Linked DNA regions of Homo sapiens. The protein of the gene in region 3 purifies or fractionates together with the protein of the main gene of each other region. This does not show direct contact. Each region holds a gene or a part of one and is shown on either strand. Other genes may lie near its edges.

Region 1 (4,452 bases), on a different chromosome or scaffold from region 3:
ATTACGCACTTTTTATCAAAACATAATAATGCTTTTCCAGCTTGTAACTGCAAGGAAAAATAATGATACTGCTAAAAAAAAAAATGCAGATTTCTGGTGGTTTACCCAACTCAAATGTTTCTATAAAAATTGCTCTTAGAGGCTGGGTGCGGTGGCTCATGCCTGTAATCCCAGCACTTTGGGAGGCTGAGGCGGGTGGATCATGAGGTCAGGAGATCGAGACCATCCTGGCTAACATGGTAAAACCCCATCTCTACTCAAAAAATACAAAAAATTAGCCAGGTGTGGTGGCACGTGCCTGCAGTCCCAGCTACTCGGGAGGCTGAGGCAGTAGAATCACTTGTTGAACCCAGGAGGCGGAGGTTGCAGTGAGCCGAGATTGCACCACTGCACTCCAGCCTGGATGACAGAGTGAGACTCTGTCTCAAAAAAAAAAAAAAAAAAATTAAAAAAAATTGCTATTAGAAGTGTGGTTTAGACTCTAAAAACTGCATGCTTTCTTGGCCCTGTTCCTTAAGGGCTCCACCCTGAAGCCAATAATCGAAGAAATAAGTTTTTTAAAAGGCCAAAACACAACATTCTGGCAGTTAGTTGGCTATTTTAAAAAACCTACTTTTTTTTGTAAAAGAAAATTACACCTTTATTGTTTTGAATTTACAAGTCATATATTTGTTTAAAATGCTTTTCCTAGACATCTTAACTGAACTTATACCATTTTTTCCCTTGGTCTGAGCAAATGATGGTACAATATTGAGGCCTAACATTTTACCTGTGCTTTTAAAATAAAAATTCTCCATTTCGTTTCACCTAAGAGTTGTCTGTTAAGAAATACGAACTTAGAGTAAGTGCTTAAATCATATATTTTATCAGAAAAAATAAACTGCTAGTGGAGATCCAAAATTATCATTAAGGGATGAACAAAATAAATAGCCCCACACCTTAGAATAGATTTCTGTATGAGAAGGACATTACATCCTGTTTTTTTAATTTGCTTCACTAAATTTAAAATATAGGCTCTCTCTTCTCGCAGCACTCGGTCCATCTGGGCATAGTCAGAAACCACTATTTGATTATCCATCTGTTCAGAAAAAGAACATCATAATTTGCATTGTAAGATATTTTAAGTTTAAAAGTAGAATTTTAAGCGAAAATACTATGTGTTGTATAAATTCAACCAAAACTATATCAAGTAATAAATTATATAGACATGCATAGAAAAGAGTCTGGATTAAGATACACATCCCAAACTTGAGTCTTTTATTTTCAACTAAGTACACTGGTATCTTACATTTTGCAAGTAAATTTTTTATAACCAAAAAATATAAAATGGTTACCCTAGTTGTTTTCAAAAGATAGGGTCCCTCTCTAATCTGTGTGAATTTGTAAATTAACAGCAACAGTGAAAAGATGGGGTCCCACTATGTTGCCCAGGCTGGAGTGGAGTGCAGGGACTATTCACAGGTCATGGAATAGCACCCTGCAACCTCAAACTCCTAGGTTCAAGCAATTTTTCTGCTTCAATTTCCCAAGGAGCTGGGACTACAGGCATCGTTGCAAATGGCTAGCTCTCAATTTCAATATCCCAACTGAGGATACAGACTTGTCACTTGTGGCACCAACAATTACTATTTTTGTCTCAATTCTAGTAAGTCTTTTGAGATCTGCTTTAAATCACTAGTAGTATTTTCTATTTTTAATAAAGAAATGCCTGAGTTATTAAAAAGTTAAACACAGAGAACCAATTTCATTTGGATTCTACTTACGTCTGTTTTGGGAGCAGATAAGCAAAACTGAATAAGCCCAATCTTGGCCTTTTCAACTCTGGTTATGCCAGAATTTGACACTTTTTGGGTGAGAACCAGCCCTTCCACCAACTCACAGTCATCAATTGTCCCACTAAGGATAAAAGAAAACAAAGAGGGGTAGTTAAGAGGGAGTGGACATCTGTACGTTTAATAGATGAACAGATTAAAAGTCATCAGTCCAATAAAATATGATTCAGCCTCACATTTATTATTGCCCCACTCCTGGATCTCTTTGATCCACTGCTGCCTTACTATCATAAGGTAACATAAACAAAATCTCCAGATGCCCATACTAATACAAATTCTCACGAAAACAAAACCAAAAAGAGAAAAGAGAGCTTTGTGACTTTCATCTAGGTGTTTTTATTTATTTTTGGCAATCTGATGCTCATTTTCAAATTTTTATTCAAGTTGTAATTAGAGATGCTTACCCAAGCTTCTTAACTATTTTAATATCTCTAAGATCTACACTGGTGGCTGTGGCTGGGTCAATCACTTTCATCACTGCATTTACACTCATTGGAGAAAGCAGACTTGAATACTGAGAAACCACCTAGAATTATTAAAAAAAAAAAAAAGTTACCTTCACAGTAGAAAAAAGTCCTAATTTTTCAATGACAAAGATACTTAAGAAAGACTCTTATAATTTTTGCAGTGGGGTGTGGGTATGAAGAGGGAAACACTCATGAGAAGACAGTCCATAAAGTGTCTTTTCCATTCAGGTTGTCACCAGGGGCACAAAATAAAAACATGTATGCTTGCTTTTTTCTTTTATTAATATAATAGCCGGGACTGTAGAATATCAAAGTTTTACAGGAAATCCAAAAAGCATAAATTTAATTTTACGTGAGTATTTTCTATCTAAAATGAATGTGTGATGAGGCATCAATGTTATGTATGTACATTCCTGATGAGGGGTTGATAAAAATTGCTAACATTTATCAATCACTTAACATATGCCAGGCAGTGGTCTTAGAACTTTACATATTAACTCATTCAATCTTCAGATGGAGAAACTGAAGCCAAGAGGTTAAGTCATTTGGCCAAACAGCGTAGTTAAGTGGTGAAGTCAGTACTGAACAAACACAAGCAGTCTAGACTCAATGCCTAGTGCTTGTAACCATTACGCTATACTATCTGTATTAGTTCTAAGGACATCCAACAGTATCACTTAGTGTCCCTAACACTACCTAACATTCAAACAAAATGAATGTATGGACTTAATACTGATTTTTAAAAGGAAAAAGGATTAGGGGAAGGAAGGGATAAACACAGGATATTACAGAAAACAAGTGACATGAGTTCCAAAGAAATTTAAAAGCACAACACCGCTTTAAGTTTGGTAAATAAGAAAAGCAGCATAAGTATTAGTTAAGGGATGGACCACGATGGGCAGCCTGTCCTGGGTTCAAATCTCAGCTGTTTCTGTTAGCGGTCCTTGGATAAGTTACTCCTCTAGATCTACTCTTTTCATCTATAAAATGGGGATATGACTATCTGAGGGCCTTGAAGAGGACAATAAATGTAAAAAACTTATCACAATGCCCACCATATTAAATATTCAATAAAAATTAGCTATACTGCCAGTAATCTATGGCAGTCTTTCTGATTTGGTGGAGGAAAAGGTTTCTTATAGGCAAATTAAAATATCTAGCTTTATCAAAACACTGTTACAATGCATTAAACAGAAAAGTGGAAATGGATATAGTATATATTAAATATCCTAACTCCTTTGTTAGCCTTATGGCTCATTTCCTCTCTTAATCTTAAACCAATTCAATTATACAGATTATAACAGTTACCTAGCCACTCTTGAGATTTAGTATTTATGTACCGTATAGCATCAAGAATCATAGAGTAACACACTTTTAACTAATTTGACAAGTATCCGTTAGTGTTTGTCTCACCTTTGAGTTCAGTGAAGTGGTTGCACTATTTAACAAAGTTTCTCTGTCACTCAGTTCCACAGGTCGAGACATGTCAGTCAAGATTTCAATGCCCTTTTCCAGGGCCTTCTGGAATGACTCAGAAATGATGGTTGGATGAATCCCTGTAATTTGTGAAAGTCTAGTTATTTAATTGTAACAGGTAAACTACACATTTGACATGGCTTAAAAATTTTCTACTCAATGTCAAAGCAAGCACAAATTTAACTATTCTTAATTACAAACTTATGCTTCAGTTGTAATATAGTGGCTTGAATAACCTGCTAACTATGGCTAATAATTTACTTCCATCCAACTTAAAACAGATTACACACTTATTAATGGTCTTGACTAAAACCAAATTTTATACTTTTTTTTTTTTTTTTTTTTTCTGAGACAGGGTCTTACTCTGTCACCCAGGCTAGAGTGCAGCGCCCTGATCTCAGCTCACTACAGCCTCAACCTCCCAGGCTCAAGTGATCCTCCCACCTCAGCCTCCTGAGTAGCTGGGACTACAGACACACGCCACCACACCCGGCTAATTTTTTTTGTATTTTTTTTTTTTTTTTTTGGTGGAGACAGGGTTTTGCCATGTTGCCCAGTCTGGTCTCAACTCCTTGGGCTCAATTGTTCTGCCAGCCTCAGCCTCCCAAAGTGCTGGGATTACAAGTATGAGTCACCGCACCTGGCCGATACTTCTCAAAATATCACAAATCTACATT
Region 2 (4,452 bases), on a different chromosome or scaffold from region 3:
ACCACGCCCGGCTAATTTTGTTTTTGTATTTTTAGTAGAGACGGGGTTTCACCGTGTTAGCCAGGATGGTCTCAATCTCCTGACCTCGTGATCCGCCCACCTCGGCCTCCCAAAATGCTGGGATTACAGGCGTGAGCCACTGCGCCCGGCCCAGTGTGGTAGCTTTTGTCCCACTTTGGTTTCCGTAACTTCAAAATAGGAATGAGAAGTCTCCTGGGTTCCTCACCTTTAGGGGGCAATTGGGAGGGGCAGATAAAATGGTGAACATGAAACTACTTTAAAAAGTGTAATGAATTGGCTGGGCACGGTGGCTCTCACGCCTGTAGTTCGAGCACTTTGGGAGGCTGAGGTGGGCGGATTACTTGAGGCCAGGAGTTGGTAACCAGCCTCGCCAAAATGGTGAAACCCTGTCTCTACTAAAAATACAGAAAATTAACCTCCAGCTACTCGGGAGGCTGAGGCAGGAGAATCACTAAACCTGGAAGGCGGAGGTTGCAGTGAGCGGAGATGGTTCCATTGCACTCCAGCCTGGGTGACAGAGTGAGACTCCATCTCAGGAAAAACAAAAAAAAAAGTGTAATGAACTGTGCAAATAGAATACGCCGTTTATAATAACTCCTAGGAAATAATAAAAGTACCTAAACAGTTAAAACCTATACAGCTTTTGGTAAAACTTTTCAGGAAAGTCCTGGTTGAATTCTTTGTTACTCCAACAGATGTACTTTTTTTTTTTTTTTTTTTTTTTTTTTGAGACGGAGTCTCCCTCTCAGGCTGGAGTACAGTGGTGTGATCTTGGCTCACTGCAACCTCCGCCTCCTGGGTTCAAGCAATTCTCCTGCCTCAGCCTCCCAAGTAGCTGGGACTACAGGTGCCCACCACCACACCCGGCCCGGTTTTTTGTATTTTAGTAGAGACGGGGTTTCACCGGGTTGTCCAGGCTGGTTGCGAACTCCTGAGCTCAGGCAGTCCGCCCACCTCGGCCTCCCAAAGTGCTGGGATTACAGGTGTGAGCCACCGCGCTCAGCCTTACTTATTTTTTTAGAGACAGGGTCTTGCTCTTCATCAGGCTGGAGTGCAGTGGCGTGGTTATTGCTCACTGCAGTCTCAAACTCCTGCTGTTATTGGTTCAAGTGATCTTCCTGCCTCAGTCTCCTGAGTAGCTGGATCCACAGGCGGATGACGCTACACTCAGCTAATTTTTTTTTTTTTCCTAATTTTTCATAGATACTTCGCTTTGTTGCCCAGGCTGGTCTCGAACTCCTGAGCTCAAGCGATCATCCTGCTTCCTCCAACTCCCAGAGTTCTGGGATTACACGCGCGAGCCACGATGCCAACCAGGAGACCAGAAATTAAGCTCAGCTTTCTTTCTCTCCCTTCTTCCCTCCCTCCCTCCCTCCTTTCCTTCCTTCCTTCTTTTTTAAAACTTTGTGGTATCTGTTTGTGAATTGCTTATTTTACTTACCATATTGTCTTCAAAGTTCATCCATGTTATAGCCGGTGATGGGATTTCCTTCCTTTTTGAGATTGAATAGTATTCCATTGTATGCCTATGCCACATATGGTTTAATCATTCATCCATTGATGGACACTTGGGTTGCTTCTGACTGTTGGCTGTTGTGAGTAGTACTGCTATGAACACGGGTCTGCAAATATCTCTGAAACTCTGCCTTCTTTTTCTGTTTGTTTGTTTGTTTGTTTAAGGCAGTCTTACTCTGTTGCCCAGGCTTGAATGCAGTGGTGCCATTACAGCTCACTTTATTTTTTATTTTTTTGAGACAGTCTCACTCTTGTTGGCCAGGCTGCAGTGCAGTGGCGTGATTTCAACTCACACTGCAAACTCCACTTCCCGGGTTCAAGCTATTCTCCTGCCTCAGCCTCCTGAGTAACTGGGATTACAGGCATCTGCCACCACACCCAGCTAATTTTGTGTTTTTAGTAGAGACAGGGTTTCTCCGTGGTGGTCAGGCTGGTCTTGAACTCCCGAACTCAGGTGATCCACCTGCCTCGGCCTCCCAAAGTGCTGTGATTACAGGTGTGAGCCACCACGCCCAGCCTGCCCAGCTAATTTTTGTATTTTTAGTAGAGACAGGGTTTTGCCATGTTGGCCAGGCTGGTCTCGAATTCCTGACCTCAGATGATCTGCCTGCCTTGGACTCCCAATGTGCTGGGATTATTGGCGTGAGCCACCGCGCCTGGTGGAGTGGTGGAGTCTTTTTTTTTTTTTTGAGGTGGAGTCTCTGTGGCCCAGGCTGGAGTGCAGTGGCGCCATCTCGGGTCACTGCATCCTCCGCCTCCCAGGTTCAAGCGATTCTCCTCCCTCAGCCTCCTGAGTAGCTGCGGCTACAGGTGTGCGCCACCACACTCGGCTAATTTTTTGTATTTTAGTAGAAACGGAGTTTCATCATGTTTCCCTGGCTGGTCTCCTGAGCTCAGGCAGTCTACCAGCCTCCCAACGTGCTAGGATTACAGGCGTGAGCCACCCCACCCTGCCCAACGACTCACTTAGCTTCAACCTGTCAGACTCAGGCTTCTCCTACCTTAGCCTTCTTAGTATCTGGGACAACAGGTGTGTGCTACCATACCTGGCTAAATTTTTCTTTTTTTGATTTTTTGTAGAGACAGGATAATTTTTTTTTTTTTTTGTATAGACAGGGTCAGGCTATGTTTATGTTGGCCAGGCTGGGAAATAAGGTCTTAATAGAGGAAGTTGAAGATTCCTGGGGGAATAGCATGTAGAGCAGCTATAGAGGGAGAGGGTGCTGATTACTAGCTAAAAGACTTAGAAATTTTTGCAAACATGGACTCATGATAGTTTTTGGGTGATGAGTCTTCTTGTAGGATAGCTTGAAAGAGGAGGAGGAAACTAGAGGCCCTGGTAATATAAGGTAACATTAAGTATCCTGATGTCAGTAATGGAGAAGAGTGAAAGACTATGATTGATTGGGTGACTGTGTGGGCAGAGGATGTGAGGAGAAAAGGACATCTTGTGTGTGTGTGCGCACACATTTTTAGTTGTGTATCTTCTACTTGTTTTCTCCCCCACCTTGTACCTGTACTTTCTCAAGCCCAAAAATGAAAATTTACCTGCTACCAACCACATCATCTTGTGCATCTGTGTAGCTCAGTTTTTATTTCTTTAGATCTGTGGTCCTCCGTGGAAAGAGAGCCACTACCCCAAGACACATCTAATATAATACACAGGGCGCTTACGTGGTTAGAAAAGAAGAGATAAGCCGGGTGCGGTGGCTCACTCCTGTAATCCCAGCACTTTGGAAGGCCGAGGCGGGCAGATCACGACGTCAAGAGATTGAGACTATCCTGGCCAACACGGTGAAACCCTGTCTCTATTAAAAATAACAAAAATTAGCTGGATGTGGTGGTGCACACCTGTCATCCCACCTACTTGGGAGGCTGAGGTAGGAGAATCACTTGAACCCAGGAGGCGGAGGTTGCAGTGAGCCAAGATAGTGCCAATGCATCCCAGCCTGGCGATAGAGCAAGACTCATCTCAGGAAAAAAAAAAAAAAGGAGCTTGTTTTGGCCAGGTGCAGTGGCTCACGCCTGTAATCCCAGCACTTTGGGAGGCTGAGGCAGGTGGATCACCTGAGGTCAGGAGTTCGAGACCAGCCTGGCCAACATGGCGAAACCCTGTCTATACTAAAAGTACAAAAATTAGCCGGGCATGGTGGTGGGTGCCTGTAATCACAGCTACTCAAGAGGCTGAGGTGGGAGAATTACTTGAACCTGGGAGGCGGCGGTTGCAGTGAGCTGAGATGGTGCCACTGCACTCCAGCCTGGGCGACAGAGGGAGAATCCATCACAAAATAAATAAATAAAATATATAAATTTTAAAAAGTAGCTTGTTCTTAGTTTAATATTCTTTTTGAGTTCTAAAACGCTAATTTGAAAACATGTCTATTGATGATATTTGAGCAACCGTATCCATATTAAGCCTTAATATGAGAGGAATTATCTTCTGTGTTAATTTTTTTTTTTGAGACGAACTCTTGCTCTGTCACGCAGGCTAGAGTGTAGTGGCGTGCTCACTGCAACCTCCACCTCCTGGGTTCAAGCAGTTCTCCTGACTCAGCCTCCCAAGTAGCTGAGACTACAGGCGCCCGCTATCGCTCCCAGCTAATTTTTGTATTTTTAGTAGAGAAGAGTTTCGCCATGTTGGCCAGGCTGGTTGTGAACTCCTGACCTAGTGAGCCACCTGCCTCGGCCTCCCAAAGTGCTGGGATTACAGGCGTGAGCCACGGCGCCCGGCCATCTCTGTTATTTCATTGTAATGTTTTAACGGGTACCCCCTGTAAATTAGTGTATGAAAGGGCTTTTGTCTGTTGTAAAGCACTTTACAAATGCAAAAGTTTGTTGGAAATTGTATTTGAATGCCCCACATCTGTGTAACCAATCCTCTCTATATGAGGATGTTGTGTATGTTTCAGTTTTATT
Region 3 (5,406 bases):
ATGGCTTTTAGTTATCTCAGGAGCTTTAGAAATTATCTATTCCCAGACCTGGAGAGATTCTGATTTAATTGGTTATGGTAGTTGGGGGCATTTGCTTTTTTTTTTTTTTTTAAAGCTCTCCTTGATGGTACTGTGCCACAAGGATTGAGAATCTCAGATTATAAAACTACCTTTCCGTCTATTCAAATAGTTGGTAATTTGACTATTAAAAACCACTTACTCTGGCCAGGTGCAGTGGCTCACACCTGTAATCCCCGCACTTTGGGAGGCCCAGGTGGGTGGATCACCTGAGGTCAGGAGACCAGCCTGGCCAACATGGCAAAACCCTGTCTCTACTGAAAATACAAAAAAATCAGCCAAGTGTGCTGGTGCGTGCCTGTAATCCCAGCTACTCAGGAGGGTGAGGCAGGAGAATCACTTGAACCTCGCAGGTGGAGGTTGCGGTGAGTGGAGATTGCACCACTGTACTCCAGCCTGGGCAACAGAGCGAGATTCTGTCTCAAAAAAATAAATAAAATAAAAATTAAAAAGCAGTTACTCTGTGTATGTCTGTAATTTGTTTACAAGTTTCTCTTTTGACAATAATTTTGCATTCAGCAAATACTTCCTAATTGATAGGATGAGGAACCCAGAGATTCAGATTGTGACTTAAAACTCTTATAATATCAATTCCAAATATAGATAAATACAAAACCATGATTTATGAGACTATGTCTGTAACTTGTGGGGTTTTGGTAGTATTACATCCAGCCATTTAGGCATATTTATTGGATGACCACTCCTGTCACAGGATTAAAGTTTAAAAAAAAAATCTGTCTTTAATAGACATTGACTTGGACCTAAAACCATCAGTAATCTAGGTTAAATATTGGCGTGAAAGCAAAAGTGACAACAGAAGGACACTCTACTATAATACTGATCATTGATGGATGTTCTGTAGTTAAAAGAATTTAAAAGAATCATCTGGTAATAGCGACTTCAAAACTGAAAACCTTAAACTACTTGGAATGCGGAATTTCGGGCCCTACAGCTACAGAATCAGAATCTGCATTTAACAGAAGCTTCAAGTGATTGATAGGCACATTACAATTTAAGAAGAACTGATCTAATGGGTTTTAAACCAGTATGTAAGAAATGCTGGATTCTTTAAAAATGATCAGTGGAACATAGAAATTAATCTGAGACTGAGAATTAATCTGAGGCAGCTGTTTTCTGTCTTTCTGTAGTGACATGGATAGCATTGAGATTTGAAAGTGACGTTAGGCTTGCATATTCATTAAAGAGTGACCACAGGGTTTTTGTGGCTACCTAATTTTGTATCTGTTTCCAAGAAAAATTTGACACCTGAGAATTTTTTAGTTCAAATAAGCTATATGTGGGATTATAATTTAAACTGATTCTACTAAAATGATTATAACCATATGAAAATAATAATGTTTATGCTAACAATTACAAAAGTTTGTATTTTTGTTTTAAAAGGAAACTGACTTATAATAGATGACTTTTTTCTAAGTCATGATCAGTCTGCTTTTTGTTTAGACAGAGATGTAGCTCCAATACTAGAGCCAAATAGCACACAGTGAGTCAAAAAGGGAACTGGTGATAGTTGATGTGCTTTTTTTCCCATAATGTTTATAATTTGTGAGCTACTATAGGTGGATTCTTTAGTGTATTTTAGCACTTTTTAAGTGTTTCCTGATGCCTAAATATCAGTTCAATTAATACATTTAGGAATATTTTGAGGACATAGCCTTGTTTGTAAATGCTGGCATTTGGAGACTTCTATTTCATGGCTTCTCAGTGTGCCAGTATGGCCGTTATTAAAGTATTTGATGTTAGAATATGACTTTTTAATGTGTTGATGCTTGAATAGAGCTATTCTCAAGCTGGAATAACTGAGACTGAATGGACAAGTGGATCTTCAAAAGGCGGACCTCTGCAGGCATTAACTAGGGAATCTACAAGAGGGTCAAGAAGAACTCCAAGGAAAAGGGTGATGCAAGGCTTATTCCTTGGGTTTTCAGATTTGTAGGGTTTTAGTATTATTTTATATTTATTGTTTTTGTTTTGTTTTCAAACTAACAGGTGGAAACTTCAGAACATTTTCGTATAGATGGTCCAGTAATTTCAGAGAGTACTCCCATAGCTGAAACTATAATGGCTTCAAGCAACGAATCCTTAGTAAATATGTTTCATAAACTATACAAGTGGTATTCTTTGTAAATTACCCTTTAATTGGAAATGGGGAGGTGGTGAATTTTGGCAAATCTCAAATTTACATGTTTTTTTTTTTTAACAATTTTAAACTGATTTTCCCCATATAGTTCTGAATTTTAGAATTTTCCTATAATATCCAATTTATGTAAAGAAATCTAATTCATTGTACAAGAAAGTATAAGGATATTTTTTGTTAAAATATTTGAAGAATGAGGCTTCATATGTGAGGCACTAAGTTGTGTTTGTAGGCTGTGTTGCTTAAATCTTTACTAAGGGAAAATTTCTAATATTACAGAGATAAAATATCTTTCTTTTCTTTTTAAGTGTCTGTGTTATGTTTGGATAATTCTGAGTCTGAATAATTTGAATCTTGGCAGGTTGTCAATAGGGTGACTGGAAATTTCAAGCATGCATCTCCTATTCTGCCAATCACTGAATTCTCAGACATACCCAGAAGAGCACCAAAGAAACCATTGACAAGAGCTGAAGTAAATGAATACAATTTAGATCGATGCTATCATTGATCTTTCAAAGAGGAAATATAAATATTTGTTTGTTTTTTTTTTTTTTTTTTGGAGTGGGAGGGAGCAGAGCTTTCTTTATTGGGTGGTGTGTGTAAATATGCATAAATTATTTTAAGGACACTTTTATTAGTGAAAACAGAAATTAACTAATATAGTTTGACATGCTAATACTATCCTCTTGCCACTGTATCCCTCTTAAGTTCCAGTTTTCAAGGGAGTGGTCATTTCTGTTCTGCTTATAATATGTTCTGTTTGTCATGGATGCAAGTTTGAAAGTGCTGCTGGGCTATGAGGGAGGCTACACTTTCTTTTGTTGACGGGTCAAATAAGAGACTTTAACATAACTTCATGTGGTGCTGGAATGGGTTAACTCCTGTGTAATTAAGCTTGAAAGTACTAACTGCATGGTGCATTTTAATTTGAATGAATCTTTACAAAAGGAGCCGAAACATTTATTATTTTGTTCTGGACATAAAGGTAAACAGTAAAACAAGCTAAACATTATATTTTTTTTAATTTGGGCATATTGCATTGACTATAATTTTAAAACATATAGTAAAGTTTGCTAAAGGTTCATGTTAAGTATCTTCTGTATTTTATCTTTTACTACAGAATTCTTAATAAATGAAGAAACAGTATACTTTTTTTTTTTTGAAACGGAGTCTTGCTCTGTTGCCCAGGCTGGAGTGCAGTGGCACGGTCTCAGCTCACTGCAACCTCCGCCTCCTGGGTTCAAGCGATTCTCCTGCCTCAGCCTCCTGAGTAGCTGGGATTACGGGTGCCCGCCACCACGCCCAGCTAATTTTTGTATTTTTAGTAGAGATGGGATTTCACTATGTTGGTCAGGCTGGTCTCGAACTCCTGACCTCAGGTGATCCACCCGCCTCAGCCTCCCAAAGTGCTGGGATTACAGGCGTGAGCCACCGTACCCGGCCCAACAATATACTCTTAATAGTAAAAAACAAAATCAATGAGGGAATTAGCATTGCCATGTTAGATTACTGAATTTTTTCCCCCCAGTTATTTAAATGTGTGGCAGTTTTTCACTCCAATAACCACATATATAAGGTATCTTCAAGAAATTTGAAGAGAGCCTTGGAAGCATGTGGATACCTAAATAATAATTTAGAAATGGCAGCTGTAAAATCTATGATAGATTTAAAGGCATTTTGTTCTCTAAAACTTACTATTTATGTTTTAATTATTGCATGTTTACACTAAATTTTAACTTGTGGTTGTTTGTTTGTCTGTTTCTTATTAGGTGGGAGAAAAAACAGAGGAAAGAAGAGTAGAAAGGGATATTCTTAAGGAAATGTTCCCCTATGAAGCATCTACACCAACAGGAATTAGGTATTCAGATACATTTAAACAAGTACTAGTGTATTCTAGTAGGGAATCTTTATTTTTAATTCTTCATCACAAAGTTACTGTACTTCTGCTCAGAATTAAGCTGTTTTTTTGGAGCCAGGTACAATGGTACATGCCTGTAGTCCCAGCTACTCAAGAGACTAAGGCAGGTGGATTGCTTAAGCCCAGGAGTTCGAGACCAGTCTGGGCAACATAATGAGACTCTGTCTACCCACCGACTTTTAAATAAATAAGTGAACGAACTGTTCTTTTGGGAGCAGTTTAATTCCCCTAAGCCCACCAGTAAATATTCTTGAAAGTTGAATGAGTTTCAAAATTGCGATTGGTAAATGGAGGATTTTAAATAAATCACTTACTTACTACTTAAATTCATATGTTAAAATCTAAACGAAAATCTAGTGAGAAATAGTTTTTCCCCCCTAAGTTTCTCTTTTCTAATTGAAAAGGCTGTGTTTATGTATCTTAATTTTTAACTGAAAGAAACACAGCCAAAACTGTTTTGTTTTTCCTCTTTACTCCTAAACATGAGCTTTGAAGAGCCTTTAAGAAGGCAGGTTTAGTGACTATTTATCAGTGTTCTGAATATTCTTTTCTAATAAAGGATGCATCGAACTTTTTTTTTTTTTTTGAGACGGAGTTTTGCTCTGTTGCCCAGGCTGGAGTACAGTGGCGTGATCTCGGCTCACTACAACCTCCACCTCCTGGGTTCAAGCGATTCTCCTGCCTCAGCCTCCTGAGTAGCTGGGATTACAGGCACCCACCATCATGCCCGGCTAATTTTTGTATTTTTGTAGAGACAGAGTTTCACCATGTTGGCCAGGCTAGTCTTGAACTCCTGACCTCAGGTGATCTGCCCGCCTTGGCCTCCCAAAGTGCTGGGATTGCAGGCGCGAGCCACCATGCCCAGCCCATCTAACTTTTAAAATAGAAAATATGTAGAAGTTTTAAATAGGTTGACTGACCTCACTGCTTTATATGTATCAATTTTCTACTGTTACCTCAGGGAATGTGCTTGGAATTAGGAGTGGCAATGACATTTTATGTTATTTCTCTAAATCATGCCTTTATCTAAAATTATTTTTCTTTTCCTCCTTTCACTCCCAACAGTGCTAGTTGCCGCAGACCAATCAAAGGGGCTGCAGGCCGGCCATTAGAACTCAGTGATTTCAGGATGGAGGAGTCTTTTTCATCTAAATATGTTCCTAAGTATGTTCCCTTGGCAGATGTCAAGTCAGAAAAGACAAAAAAGGGACGCTCCATTCCCGTATGGATAAAAATTTTGCTGTTTGTTGTTGTG
Region 4 (3,176 bases), on a different chromosome or scaffold from region 3:
GAGACAGGGTTTCCCCGTGTTAGCCCGGATGGTCTCAATCTCCTAACCTCGTGATCCACCTGCCTCAGCCTCCCAAAGTGCTGGGATTACAGGCCCGAGTCACCGCACCTGGCCTAGTATTACATCTTTTTTTTTTTTCCTTTTTTCGTGAGACAGAGTCTTGCTTTGTCACCCAGGCTGGAGTGCAGTGGTGCTATCTTGGCTCACTGCAAACTCCGCCTCCCGGGTTCACGCCATTCTCCTGTCTCAGCCTTCCTGGTAGCTGGGACTACAGGTGCCCGCCACCATGCCCGGCTAATTTTTTTTTGTATTTTTAGTAGAGGCGGGGTTTCCCCGTGTTAACCCGGATGGTCTCAATCTCCTAACCTCGTGATCCGCCTGCCTCGGCCTCCCAAAATGCTGGGATTACAGGCGTGAGCCACTGTTCCCGGCCTACATTTTTTAATAAATTGGTTTTGAAACTGCAATGGTGCCTGCCTGTAATCTCGGCTGTTCAGCAAGGTGAGGCAGAAGGATCACTTGAGCCCAGGAGTTTGACACCAGCTTGGGCAAGATAAAACTTCATCTCACAAAATAAAATACTACTTTTGTGACTTGGGTTCCGTGGTGAATATAGGAGAATCGTCATGAAAGTGGCAGTTTACTAGGATGTGACTTTGCATTTAGTTTAAGGATTATTTAGATTTTTTTGTTTTTTAAAGAGACGGTATTTATGTCTTTTAATTTTAGAATATGTTAATGTCTGTCCCAGCATGTTGGAACATAATTTCTTTAAAGGGAGGGATCATTGCTTTTTCTCAAGTGATTTTAGTCTCTTCACCCTGTGGTAAGAGGATTGTTTCATATACGAATCCATAGGTAGGAAATACATGTTCTCCCTGCCTGTTCCCCTCTCTCCAAAATGTAGATACACTGGGCAAAGAAACATAGCCAAGGAATCCTTTTTCCCCTAATATCTGTATGTCTTTCAAGAGGATATTACTTCCTTCTCAGAGTAGAAGGGAGGAGGAGTAGACAGATTGTTGCTTAGAGTGAAGTTTACACGAAGTAAGACCAAAGTCCGGCTCCTGTATCATTGTTTTCCTTTGTCCTGCTCTGTTGGTTTATTTTTCTTGTAATGTTGCTTTCATATGATTGTTCTCCCTCCCTTTTTCCTTGCAATATAGATTCCTAAAGGAAAACCCAACTCTTCCTTTCCTAAAAACTCTACTTTGTAAGTCACGTTCATGGCACAGTGAATTCCGCTTTCAGTTTTGGTTCTTCACTAATCATGCCTGCGTATGATCGTCCTGTTGCTTACAGACTCTGCCTGTTCCACCTTCCAGGGCGCTGACCTAAGCCTTTTCCGGCCTGCTCCTCCTGCCTACTGTGGTTGGATGTGATGTATATGACAGTGACATTTTTATGCCAAAGTTACTTGGAACTTCTGGCACATCTCATGGTTGCTTACAAGCGAGTTGTGTTCTAGTGTTTGTGTTAATGATACTTTGGCAGTGATTTGCTGTTAGAGTGAATGTTCCTATCATGTTTCCTACGTTTGAATACGTTATTGTCCTTTGGAGAACAGTTGGGTGCCCATCAGTTCTTTCATCCCTAAGCAATTTTTTTTTGCCTTTGCATATTTTTTTTCTGTCTTATGAATTAAAGATCTTCATGTATTTTAAGTAGTTTTAAAATTTTATACATTTTTTTGAGACGGAGTTTTGCTCTTGTTGCCCCGCCTGGAGTGCAGTGGCGTTCAAAGCTCACTGCAGAAATAGAACTCCCCCACCTCAGCCCCCCAAGTAGCTGGGACTATAGACATGTGGCCCCATGCCCAGCGTATGTAGTTTTTTTTTTTTTTGAGACGGAGTCTCGATTGTCGCCCAGGCTGGAGTGCAGCGGCAGAATCTTGGCTCACTGAAAGCTCCGCCTCCTGGGTTCACGCCATTCTCCTGCCTCCCGAGTAGCTGGGACTACAGGCGCCTGCCACCATGCCTGGCTAATTTTTTTTTTTTTTTTTTGTATTTTTAGTAGAGACAGGGTTTCACTGTGTTAGCCAGGATGGTCTCGATCTCCTGACCTCATGATCCACCTCTCTTGGCCTCCCAAAGTGCTGGTATTACAGGCGTGAGCCACCATGCCTGGCTCCAGCATACATAGTTTTTTACTTTTAGTTTTATTTATTCTTTTTTTTTTTTTTTTGAGACGGAGTCTCACTCTGTTACCCAGGCTGGAGTGTAGTGGCATGTTCTTGGCTCGCTGCAACCTCCGTCTCCTGGGTTCAAGCAATTCTCATGCCTCAGCTTCCCAGGTAGCTGGGATTACAGGCATGTGCCACCACGCCAGGCTAATTTTTTGTATTATTTTTTCAGTAGAGATGGGGATTTACTGTGTTAGCCAGGATGGTCTTGATCTTCTGACCTCGTGATCCGCCCGCCTTTGCTTCCCAAAGTGCTGGGATTACAGGCGTGAGCCACCGTGCCCGGCGTTATGTTCATTTTTTGTAGAGACAGGGCTTCACTGTGTTGCTGAGGCTGTAAGTGGGTTTTGAAGTCACACAGCAATGTCAAGCGTTTCCGCCGCAGAAGAGATTTGAAAACTACTGAAACCTTGATGCTGTGACATTTGTCATTTTGAGATCATTTAGGCTGTTTCAAAGCTGTACTCAGTGTAAATGCTTCATGTGTGTAGGCAGCTAGTTTGGTGTTATTTGTCCATCCTAATTAAATAATTTAACAAGCATTATGAATGGATAGTCATTTGAACATTTATGATTCTTGGGTTGATTTTTCATTTATTTTGTTTCAAACTAGTTAACTGTGTAGTAATTGTAAGTGGTTTTTTTAAAAAAGTACAAGTGAATGTAACTTTTACCTGTTACATCATTTTTAAGGGAAAAGCCTGCATGCTTCTTTATTTTGGCTGACTTGTTTAATGCATACTAATAGGTAGATGACCCTCCAACCAATAGGTGGCTTTCTGTTGCATGTCATAGTGCAGTTGAAACTCCTTAGGGTAATCACCCTCTTTAAAGGCAAAAGACAAATAGCATGAGTGAAGTGGTCCAAATGCCATTCTTTAATAACCTCAGTGGTCTGATTTACTTTGAGCATGCTGTGTTTCACTCTGAAGTAAAATCTGATTATAGTTTGGTGTATCTGGCCAAGATACAAAAGCTGAAATATTTATAACAG

The links. Proteins that work in one complex are often made in the same cells at the same time.
Region 1: the proteins of TMPO (region 3) and CCT4 purify together in Homo sapiens (affinity purification with mass spectrometry, with the first as the bait; one large-scale study listed by BioGRID). This does not show direct contact.
Region 2: the proteins of TMPO (region 3) and CANX purify together in Homo sapiens (affinity purification with mass spectrometry; 3 studies listed by BioGRID and IntAct, with this or other methods). This does not show direct contact.
Region 4: the proteins of TMPO (region 3) and YWHAE purify together in Homo sapiens (affinity purification with mass spectrometry; 3 studies listed by BioGRID). This does not show direct contact.

Annotation. Positions count from the first base shown.
Region 1 is NC_000002.12:61,875,157-61,879,608, forward strand, and holds part of CCT4 (T-complex protein 1 subunit delta), read right to left. Parts: intron 3,894-4,452; exon of another isoform or gene 3,856-3,893; coding exon 3,713-3,855; intron 2,359-3,712; coding exon 2,237-2,358; intron 1,897-2,236; coding exon 1,764-1,896; intron 1,079-1,763; coding exon 939-1,078; intron 1-938. UniProt on the Homo sapiens protein: Component of the chaperonin-containing T-complex (TRiC), a molecular chaperone complex that assists the folding of actin, tubulin and other proteins upon ATP hydrolysis.
Region 2 is NC_000005.10:179,701,015-179,705,466, forward strand, and holds part of CANX (calnexin isoform d precursor), read left to right. Parts: intron 1-4,452. UniProt on the Homo sapiens protein: Calcium-binding protein that interacts with newly synthesized monoglucosylated glycoproteins in the endoplasmic reticulum. It may act in assisting protein assembly and/or in the retention within the ER of unassembled protein subunits.
Region 3 is NC_000012.12:98,542,357-98,547,762, forward strand, and holds part of TMPO (thymopoietin), read left to right. Parts: intron 1-1,873; coding exon 1,874-1,993; intron 1,994-2,085; coding exon 2,086-2,181; intron 2,182-2,594; coding exon 2,595-2,705; intron 2,706-4,002; coding exon 4,003-4,091; intron 4,092-5,216; coding exon 5,217-5,406. UniProt on the Homo sapiens protein: May help direct the assembly of the nuclear lamina and thereby help maintain the structural organization of the nuclear envelope. Possible receptor for attachment of lamin filaments to the inner nuclear membrane.
Region 4 is NC_000017.11:1,345,999-1,349,174, reverse strand, and holds part of YWHAE (14-3-3 protein epsilon), read left to right. Parts: intron 1-3,176. UniProt on the Homo sapiens protein: Adapter protein implicated in the regulation of a large spectrum of both general and specialized signaling pathways. Binds to a large number of partners, usually by recognition of a phosphoserine or phosphothreonine motif.